Regions from separate parts of the Homo sapiens genome. Here region 1 is linked to region 2. Evidence: fine-mapped expression QTL. A gene starts in region 2. The other region holds a variant in brackets. All regions are shown on one strand. Distances are from middle to middle. Region 1 overlaps CLIP1 (CAP-Gly domain containing linker protein 1). Region 2 holds the start of LRRC43 (leucine rich repeat containing 43).

The links. PIP is the estimated chance that this variant, and not a neighbour inherited with it, causes the effect. A credible set is the group of variants that fine-mapping cannot tell apart.
Region 1: its variant is the best candidate, but not a certain one, in a credible set for the expression of LRRC43 in nasal epithelium (TOPMed, PIP 0.54).

What each region holds. Positions count from the first base shown.
Region 1 is chr12:122,316,606-122,321,605 of GRCh38, reverse strand. CLIP1 (CAP-Gly domain containing linker protein 1) reads left to right here. Exons shown (of 26, transcript NM_001247997.2): 18 at 2,258-2,374; 19 at 4,751-4,857. Among named protein-coding and RNA genes, the nearest start is that of VPS33A, 53 kb to the right of the region's middle. The variant G/C (reference allele first, on the strand shown) is at 2,662.
Region 2 is chr12:122,180,147-122,185,670 of GRCh38, reverse strand. LRRC43 (leucine rich repeat containing 43) reads right to left here and starts at 2,548. Exons shown (of 12, transcript NM_001098519.2): 1 at 2,377-2,548; 2 at 892-1,152. The coding sequence starts at 2,526. RefSeq lists an enhancer at 758-827 and a silencer at 2,421-2,520.

The sequences.
Region 1 (5,000 bases), 140 kb before region 2:
CAGAAGTTGCAGGAAACCGAGATCATGCCATTGCACTCCAGCCTGGTTGACAGAGCGAGACCCCATCTAAAAAAAAAGAACAGCCAGGTGTGGTGGCTCACGGGGGCTGAGGCAGGTGGATCACCTGAGGTCAGGAGTTCGAGACCAGCCTAACCAACATGGTGAAACCCTGTCTCTACTAAAAATACAAAAATTCGCCAGGCGTGGTGGCGTGCGCTTATAATCCCAGCTACTCAGGAGGCTGAGGCAGTAGAATCACTTGAATCCAGGAGATGGAGGTTGCAGTGAGCCGAGCTTGCGCCATTGCACTCCAGCCTGGGCAACAAGAGTGAAAAACTCTGTCTCAAGGGAAAAAAAAAAAAAGCAATAAATTGGCACATATTGAAATATAGTCTTCTGTTTGGCTTTTAACTATTTCATTGTGTCTGTCCATTTGGAGTTGGAAGATTCCATTGAAATCTTCATGGCTGATAATTGGATAGGGAAAAATGCAGAATTTTCATAAACTTTATTAGACCAATAAATTATAAACAAGTGCCTAAAGGACTTTATTTATTTATTTATTTATTTATTTATTTATTTATTTAAGACAGAGTCTCACCGGGTGCGGTGGCTTACACCTGTAATCCCAGCACTTTGGGAGGCTGTTGCAGGCGGATCACGAGATCAGAAGATCAAGACCATCCTGGCCAACATGGTGAAACCCCGTCTCTACTAAAAATACAAAAATTAGCCCGGTGTGGTGATGTGGGCCTGTAGTTCCAGCTACTCAGGAGGCTGAGGCAGGAGAATCACTTGAACCAGGGAGGCGGAGGTTGCAGTGAGCTGAGATTGCACCACTGCGCTCCAGCCTGGTGACAGAATGAGACTGCCTAAAAAAAAAAAAAAGAGTCTCGCTCTGTCACCCAGGTTGGAGTACAGTGGTGTGACCTTGGCTCACTGCAACCTCTGCCTCCCGGGTTCAAGCGATTCTCCTGCCTCACCCTCTTGAGTAGCTGGGACTACAGGTGCGTGCTGCCACACCCGGCTAAGCTTTGTATTTTTAGTAGGGACTGGGTTTCACCATATTGACTCCTGACCTTGTGATCTGCCTGCCTCGGCCTCCCAAAGTGCTAGGATTACAGGCATGAGCCACTGCGCCTGGCCTGTTAATTAATTTATTTTTTTAGAGGTGGGAATCTTGCTGTGTTTCCCAGGCTACTTTCCACCTCCTGGGCTCAAGCAATCCTCCCGTCTCAGCTCCCTGAGTAGCTGGGACTGTAGGCACATGCTACCATGCCTAGCTATATTTTCATTTATTTTTATGGTTATTTTTACATCTAACTTTTTTTTTTTTTTTTGAGACGGAGTCTCGCTGTGTCGCCAGGCTGGAGTGCAGTGGCGCAATCTCAGCTCACTGCAACCTCCGCCTCCCAGGTTCACACCATTCTCCTGCCCCACCTCCCAAGTAGCTACAGGCACCCGCCACCACGGCCAGCTAGTTTTTTGTATTTTTATTAGAGACGGGGTTTCACTATGTTGGCCAGGATGGTCTCAATATCTTGACCTCGTGATCCGCCTGCCTCGGCCTCCCAAAGTGCTGGGATTACAGGCGTGAGCCACTGCGCCCGGCCTATATCTAACTTTTTATAATTAATTTTGATAGTTAACAGCTAAGAATTTGTCTCCATATGCATCTTTTTATTCACAGCCGTGTTTTTATTCATTACCCACAACTTGCATTAAATGCTTCTCGTTAAACACTTGAGCCTTATGTTAGAAGTGCCCAAATAATTTTTATATTTATTTGAAAAATTCTCAGCCTAAATTTGAGTGACTTTGAAAGCCCCAGATTTGAAATAGCAAGGATGGTATTTTAAACTTATAATAATAAATATGATTCCAAGAAATTCAGCTATATAAGGATGTTATTCATTGTTACCTCCGAACGGTCTCTCAAACATAAGTCAGAATGAAGGGAGCATGCTTGCCAGTGTCATTTGGAACTTTCACTGGAAGATGTATGTTTACATGCAAATTGCATAACAATTGACATTGAAAAATGGCAGGAAAGGGTCTGCATATTCTACTTCAGAGTAAAGACCTTTCCTGTCCTGGTCCGTCTGTTTCAGCACTGGATTGTGACTGATTCACCCTCTCTGTGTGCCTCCCTTACCCACACAGACACTGAGTGCTGCCTGAACAGCACAGCCCGATCCTCACCTAACGGTGTTGGCGAGGGCTGTCCTCATTTCTCACAGTGTTTCCTTGTATTTAGGCTGCTCAAACAGCGGAAGATGCCATGCAGATAATGGAACAGATGACCAAAGAGAAGACTGAGACTCTGGCCTCCTTGGAGGACACCAAGCAAACAAATGCAAAACTACAGAATGAAGTAATCAGATTTAAATAGCTTTTTATACAAAGAACAGCTTACCAACTTGGTAGAATGTTTGGTCACTGACTCAGGATTGCTTATGTTTTTGAAGTGTGTGACTTTACACAGGTTTGAAATGCATGCCAGAGCCACGATAATCTTAAATAAAGTGTATCACTTCATTACTTATTAGGATCAACTTTACAAATTGAGGAAAAAATCCTAATAGTGTGGCTAAGGTGACTGTTTACTGATGGCACTAGTGAGAGGAGGTACTGATGGCCTGCTCTAGCTTTTGTATCCTT[G/C]ATCTTACATCACACACATTGTTTTTTCTCTTCTCTTTCCCAACTTTGAGCCACTAAGTTTTCTTCCTCAGCCCTGAGTCTGATGTAGGCCTTTTCTTGGCCCAATTCAGTACTGATTTCCTTTTGTGTCATCTTGAATGAGTCACTTTTGGAGCAGGGACAAATATGTGGCGTCAAGATATTTTGATTCTGTCCACAAGTAGCATTTCTCCTTCTGTGGCATTTCTCCTCCTCTTTGGATTTCCCTGCTCCCACCCTCCTAGCTCATACCAACCCTTTCTTCATTTGGAAAGCTGTTATCTAAATCCTAAGCCGACTGAGGCACCAAAATGGTTATGTGAAGTCCTGTGGAACTTCAGATGCTTTTTTGTTGTTGTTGCTTTTTTTGTTTTGTTTTGTTGTTGTTGTTTTGAGATGGAGTCTTGCTCTTGTTGCCCAGGCTGTTGTGCAATGGCATGATCTCGGCTCACTGCAACCTCCACCTCCTGGGTTCAAGTGATTCTCCTGCCTCAGCCTCCCGAGTAGCTGGGATTACAGGTGCCCACTACCACGCCTGGCTAATTTTTGTATTTTAAGTAGGGACGGAGTTTTGCCATGTTGGCCAGGCTGTTCTGGAACTCCTGACCTCGTGATCCTCCCACCTTGGCCTCCCAAAGGGCTGGGATTACAGGCATGAGCCACCACGCCCAGCCCAGATACTTTTAAAAGTAATAGGCAGGTAAGACATTAAGGAAGGAAAGCAAGGGGGAGGCAGTGGCCAAACTGAGGAGCCACTGTAAAGACCAGGCCTCCTCATTGTGGAGGTCAAGGATCAACTTTTCAAAGGAGATGAACATTTGGAGGTAATGATATGATAAATAACAACACTTCACATAGAAGGAAGTACATTTATAGAACTGACAATCCTAAGAGAAGATGACTTAAACTAAAAGTATAAAAGCATTAAAAAATCATAGCTGTTAATCAAAATTAGAAGCTGAAGTAAATGAGAGGATTTTAGGGAATGTGTCTAACCTGCAGCAGTGGAACCAGGGGGAACTGTGTCGTTCTATAACAGATCCCTTGGTGTCTTTGTTATAGCCAGAATTCAGGGTTGGATGAACCATATTTTCGGACCCATTGTGATATTTTATTTTTCTTGTTCTGTTAATCTGGAATGTTAGGTGTTAAAAGGAAGATGGTAGTTGTAAAACTAGCAAGACATTTTCTAGGACTCCTGACTGGTGGCATGTGGCATGGCAAAAGGAGATAGCTCCCTTTTCTGGCTGTAGGAGACAACTTCTCAAGGCCCAGAAAGCCAGCATGGCCCCAGGAGCCACCTTGAGGAATGGAGGCCCACATGAGCTACCATCCTTGGTGGTGGCTCTGCACCTAGAGCTCCAACCACCTGCCACAGCCTATGATCAGTCATATCCCCACTCATCCCAGTGACAGCTCTGGCTTTCCACCAAGAGCCAGGCCCTCAGCTGGCTGCATCCCCGTGGGCCAATGATGGAGCCAGGTGGGTGTAAGTGCCCTTCAGTCCCACGACATGGCTTTTTCCTCTTCAGGTTCAAGTTCAGATGGGTAACTAAATTTTTTTCCAGTCTACAAATAATTTTGATTCAAATAAATAATTTTTGTAATGAGGACTATGTAAATCTGGTACTGACATTGAAAAATATCGTATCCTAAATCACTAATCTTTGGGGAAAGAAAAGGGTTTCTTTTCATTACAAAGAATAATCCTTGCTGATGTCATTGCTTTGCATTTTATTTCTTGTTTTTAATCATATTTGAATAGCAAGTTCAGTGATAAGTGCTGATAATTGTACACAAGATAAAAGAAAACTTTACTTCTGTGTAGCAATCTAGTTTGACCTTTTGGCCAGGTGTACAGGATATATATATATCAGACTAAATGTAAGGAGGAGGTTTGCAGTTTGTAATAGACTTGTCATCTGTAATCTCTTCACCCAGGAGACTTTTTTTTTTTGCGAGTGACTAATTTCATCTGTCTTTTCAGTACACATTTTCATGAATAATTTGTTCATTCATGTCACTGGAAAATGAAATAATTTCATCAAGTTTTTTTCTCTTGGTCTTTAAGTTGGACACACTTAAAGAAAACAACTTGAAAAATGTGGAAGAGCTGAACAAATCAAAAGAACTCCTGACTGTAGAGAATCAAAAAATGGAAGAATTTAGGAAAGAAATGTAAGTTTCTATCCTTTGAGAAAAAAATATGGAATTTATTTTAAATTGAAAATGTGAACACAATGCTAATTACTTAAAAATTATTTGAGAAGTACATAAAGTAAACGTATGCAGACTCTATTGCATACCCCAGAAGCAACATC
Region 2 (5,524 bases):
TCCCTGGCAAACTGCTACCAGTCAGTCACCCTATTTGTCCCCTAGTGCCGTGTCACTTCCCAGTGGCTCTGGAAAAAGAAAGCCAAGGGTTGGGAAGGCTGAGACCAAGTTTCCAGGCAATTTTTGGGCTGGCTTGCTGGCTTTATTTATTTATTGAGACAGAGTCTCACTCTTGTTTGCTTGCTTGCTTAATTGATTGAGACAGGGTCTCATTCTGTCACCCAGGCTGGAGTGCAGCGGTGCGATCATGATCACTGCAGCCTCTACCTCCCCACCTCAAGTGATTCTCCTGCCTAAGCCTCTGAGTAGCTGGGGCTACAGGCGTGCACCACCATACCTGGCTAAATTTAAAGATGTTACAGAGGTGGGATCCCACTATGTTGCCCAGGCTGGGCCTCTAACACCTAGACTCACACGATCCTCCTGCCTCAGCCTCCCAAAGTGCTGAGATTACAAGCACCAGAGAGCCACCATGCCGAGACTGGGCTCTGCTACTGATGTAAACAAAGAATGCTTTTTGGTAACAAATTAAAATAGAACTACACCAACCTTCCCCTACCCTGACCCCCACGGTTTAAACGAAGTAAAACTAACACAGACCCTTCAAAAAACCTTTACTAGGACCCAGGAGGGTCCACTGCAGAACTCAGGGGTGGAAGCTGTGCCATGATGGCTTCCAGGGGTAAAGGAAGAAGAAACGCAAGGCTGACCGAGTAGCCGGCCCTGCCTGGCACACAAGCCAGGGAGATGAAGCAGATGGAGGGCAGGCTGGCCTTCGTTTCAGCCCTGAAAGCAGGATCCCTGACGCGCTGTGGGGAAGGGTGCCCTCCCCACAACCTCCCTTAGGGGAGCGGCCACCCTAACATCACCTACCACGTGCCCAGCACTGACCTTCTTGTCTATTACCCGCAGGGACCGGAAGTAGGAGTAGAAGAAGGTGTCTGTGATCGTCAGCGGGTTCCGGATGGCCAATTCTCTCAGGAAACTGTCTTCTGCATTCGAGTTGTTCAGCAGAGCCCAGGGGGAGTGGCGGCTGCGGACCAGGCCCAGCAGGGCCTCCACCGTCTCCTCTCCGGGGCTCACCACATCCTCCTCTCTGGGGACAAGCTCCCTCCAAGTTCGCCAAGTTTGAGGAAGAAAGCGCGACTTATTCTGCAGTGGCAGAGGAGGGATTTTCTGTAGGTGTGACACAGCCCCCTTAAGGACACCAAACTCTCAAAACAGAACAGATCATAAAACTGGACGATTAGGGATAGAGTTTAGAAATCTAGAGAGTAGGCCAGGTGCGGTGGCTCATGCCTGTAATCCCAGCACTTTGGGAGGCTGAGGCAGGCGGATCATGAGGTCAAGAGATCGAGGCCATCCTGGCTAACACGGTGAAACCCCGTCTCGACTAAAAATACAAAAAATTAGCCGGGCGTGGTGGCACGCAACTGTAGTCTCAGCTACTCGGGAGGCTAAGGCAGGAGAATCGTTTGAACCCGGGAGGCGGAGGTTGCAGTGAGCCGAGATCACGCCACTGCACTCCAGGCTGGGTGACAGAGCGAGACTCCGTCTCAAAAAAAAAAAAAAAAATCTAGACAGTGAATAATCAATAATTTTGATGGATTATTAGCCATGGATATAACTACAGATGAGGTGAGATACAAAATAATTAAAAGGTGCCATTCCTTTTAAAAAGGCAGGTGGATCACTTGAGGTCAGGAGTTTGAGACCAGCCTGGGCAACATGGTGAAATCCTGTCTCTACTAAAAATACAATAATTAGCCGGGCATGGTGGCAGGTGCCTGTAATCCCTGCTACTTGGGAGGCGGAGGTTGCAGTAAGTCGACATCGCGTCACTATGCTCCAGCCTGGGCAGTAAGCCTTCCTGGGCCACACCTGGGCGCCCCTCGTGGTTGAAGCCACGGGAGGGAAGGGTCTAGGACTCTGGAGACAGGGAGGCAGGATGGGGGGTAACCCCTTCTCCTGGACTCAAGGTCGCAGGCTTCAGGCTGAGCCACCTCTCACACTGCCTCAGGCTCTTATTAAATGCTCGGAGGCTGGGAAAAGTTGTGGAACTCTTTGCCCAAAACAAAAGCTTTTCACCCCAAAAGGAGCCTGCCCACTAGAAATCTGGGGTGTTGACGTCTTCAAGTCAGGGAGAGGCCCCAGCCCAGGTCAGCTGATGTGCTCAGGACGGGCCCCGCTCTCCTCCCCGCGCAGTGCCCGCGACTCGGGCCCCACCGTCACCCTCAAGCCCCACCCGCCCCCATGTCGGCGGCCCCCAGAATGCGCAGATCCCAGGCCCCAGGGACCAGCCCGCTCCGCTCGCCCGGGCCCGTGCCTCCCCGCAGCCGGTCCAGGCCCCCAGAGTTCCGGCCCCGGCGCCCGCACCCAGCTGCCGGCACCGCACGGGAACTCGCGCAGACACAGCTTCCGCAAGTGCTCGCGCACGGCCGCGCTCACGGTCCCGGTCCCGGGCCGCTGAGTCCCAGGCCCGGCCTCAGACTCGGACTCGGACTCGGACTCGTACGACGCCTCCATGGCCCGGGCCGCGTTGCCCGGCAACCGCTAGGACGCGTGCGCGGGGGCAGGGGCCTCTCCAGGCGCTCTCACCTGCCCCGAGGGAAAAGTCCCCCATCCGGATCAGACAGCCTGGCCCCAACCACCTGCGTTTTCTCTTCTGCCCTCATCTATAAAAATGGGATAACAGCTGGTGGTTCTAAGTGCGGCAGCTCCCGCAGGCAGTAAGCGCCATAGCTGACCTGTTTCTTAGCTCCTGTCAAGCACTCCCCACGGAAAGTCATCCTATACCCATCTGACAGATGGAGAAAGGAGAAGAGGGCCCAAGGTCAAACATCTCGACTCCAACCAGCCAGTGGGTTCCAGGGTGGTCTCTCTAACCCTGGAGTCAGGGATTTTATCACTGTCCACCTGTATAACTGTTTAATCACCCAGACCTCATTTTTTAAATTTTTTATTTATTTTATTTTATTGAGACAGAGTCTCGCTCTGTCGCCCAGGCTGGAGTCCAGTGGCGAGATCTCAGCTCACCGCAATCTCCGTGTCCCGGGTTCAAGCGATTCTCCTGCCTCAGCCTCCCGAGTAGCTGGGATTACAGGCGCGCATGACCACTTCCGGCTTTTTTTTTTTTTTTTTTTTTTTTGAGACCGAGTTTCACTCTTGTTGTCCAGGCTGGAGTGCAATGGCGCGATCTCGGCTCACTGCAACCTCCGCCTCCCAGATTCAACCGATTCTCCTGCCTCAGCCTCCCGAGTAGCTGGGATTACAACCGCCTGCCACAACGCCCCGCTAATGTGTATTTTTAGTAGAGACGGGGTTTCACCATGTTGGCCAGGCTGGTCTCGAACTCCTGACCTCAGGTGATCCACCCACCTCGGTCTCCCCAAGTGCTGGGATTACATACGTGAGCCACCGCACCCAGCCTAATTTTTTGTATTTTAGTAGAGATGGAGTTTCACCATGTTGCCCAGGTTGGTCTCAAACTCCTGGGCTCAGGCAATCCACTGGCCTCAGCCTCCCAAAGTGTTGGGATTACAGGCGTGAGCCACCACGCCCAGCCATGAAGCTTCTTTTATAAGGACATTGATCCCATTCCTGAGGAGCCCCCAAACTTAATCACTTCCCAAAGGGCCCCACGTTTTAATACTATCACACTGGGCATCAGGTTCTGACAAATGAATTTTGGAGGAACACATTAACATCTCTCATTCTTTTTGACTATACGATATCGGGACAACTTTACTGTTATTAGAAAAATTAGGCTGGGCGCGATGGCTCACCCCTGTAAACCCAGCACTTTGGGAGGCTGAGGTGGGTGGATCACCTGAGGTCAGGAGTTCGAGACCAGCCTGATCAACATGGTGAAACCCCGTCTCTACTAAAAATACAAAAATTAGCCAGGCGTGGTGACACATGCCTATAGTCCCAGCTACTTCGGAGGCTGAGGCAGGAGAATTGCTTGAACCCAGGAGGCGGAGGTTGCAGTGAGCCGAGATCACATCACTGCACTCCAGCCTGGGCAACAGAGTGAGACTGTCTCAAAAAAAAAAAAAAATTTATCCAAAACTGGGAGTTAAGGCAAAAAGATGACCATATGTCCTTTCTTTTCCTTTTTTTTTTTTTGAGACGGAGTCTCCCTCTGCCGTCCAGGCTGGAGTGCAGTGGTGCAATCTCGGCTCACTGCAAGCTCCGCCTGCCAGGTTCACGCCATTCTCCTGCCTCAGCCTCCTGAGTAGCTGGGACTACAGGCGCCCGCCACCAAGCCCGGCTAATTTTTTGTATTTTTAGTAGAGACGGGGTTTCACCGTGTTAGTCAGGATGGTCTCGATCTCCTGACCTCGTCATCCGCCCACCTCAGCCTCTCAAAGTGCTGGGATTACATGCATGAGCCACCGGGCCCAGCCAACCATATGTCCTTTCAAAGAAGAAAATATCCTTTTTTTTTTTTGAGGCAGGGTCTCCCTTTGTTATCCAGGCTACTGTGCAGTAGCGTGATCACAGGTCACTGAAGCCTGGACCTCCTGAACTGAAGCGGTCCTCCCACCTCAGCCTCCTGAGTGGCTGGGACTACAGGCATGCATCACCATGCCTGGCTAATTTTTTTGTATTTTTAGTACAGATGGGGTTTCGCCATGTTGCCCAGGCTGGTCTCGAATTCCTGACCTCAAGTGATCCACCCACCTCAGCCTCCCAAAGTGCTGAGATCACAGGCGTGAGCCACCATGCCTGGCTCTCAAAGAATAAAATAAATATCTATGAGTCCATAGTGATATAAATAAATCAAGGAGATGAATCACAGATATGGCTCCTGCAATTTTGATGGAGCAACAGATGGACAATGTGCAGTGAAGGAAGAGAAGACTGAGAGGGGAAATCAAGCATCCTGTTTGGAACAAGTTAAGGTCCAGATGCCAATGGGCGTCTACTGTGTCAAATCAGCCATTGGTTAGGAGTAAGAGCTCAGGAATGAGGTCAGGTCTGGGCAGACCACAGAGCCCAAGATACACAGAAGAGGCCCAGCCAGGAAGCCCTTCCACCCTTCATCCCAAGTCCCCCTGCAGCCAACACTGTCTCTTTTCTCTTCCTTCTCATCCAAGCTTCTTGACACAGTGGTCTATACTCACTTTTTCTTTTTTTCTTTTCTTTTGAGACGGAGTTTTGCTCTGTTGCCCAGGCTGGAGTGCAGTGGCGCAATCTTGGCTCACTGCAACCTCCGCCTCCTGGGTTCAAGCAATTCTCCTGCCTCAGCCTTCTGAGTAGCTGGGATTGCAGGCTCCCGCCACCATGCCCAGCTAGTTTTTGTATTTTTAGTAGAGACAGGGTTTCTCCATGCTGGTCAGGCTGGTCTCGAACTCCTGACCTCAAGTGATCCACCTGCCTTGGCCTCCCAAAGTGCTGGGATTACAGGTGTGAGCCACTCGCCCCTGGCCTATGCTCACTTTTTCCTCACTTCCCAAACCACCACAATATAACTGCCACACCAAAAATTTATTCAAACTCTCCCAGCAAAGTTTCTGTG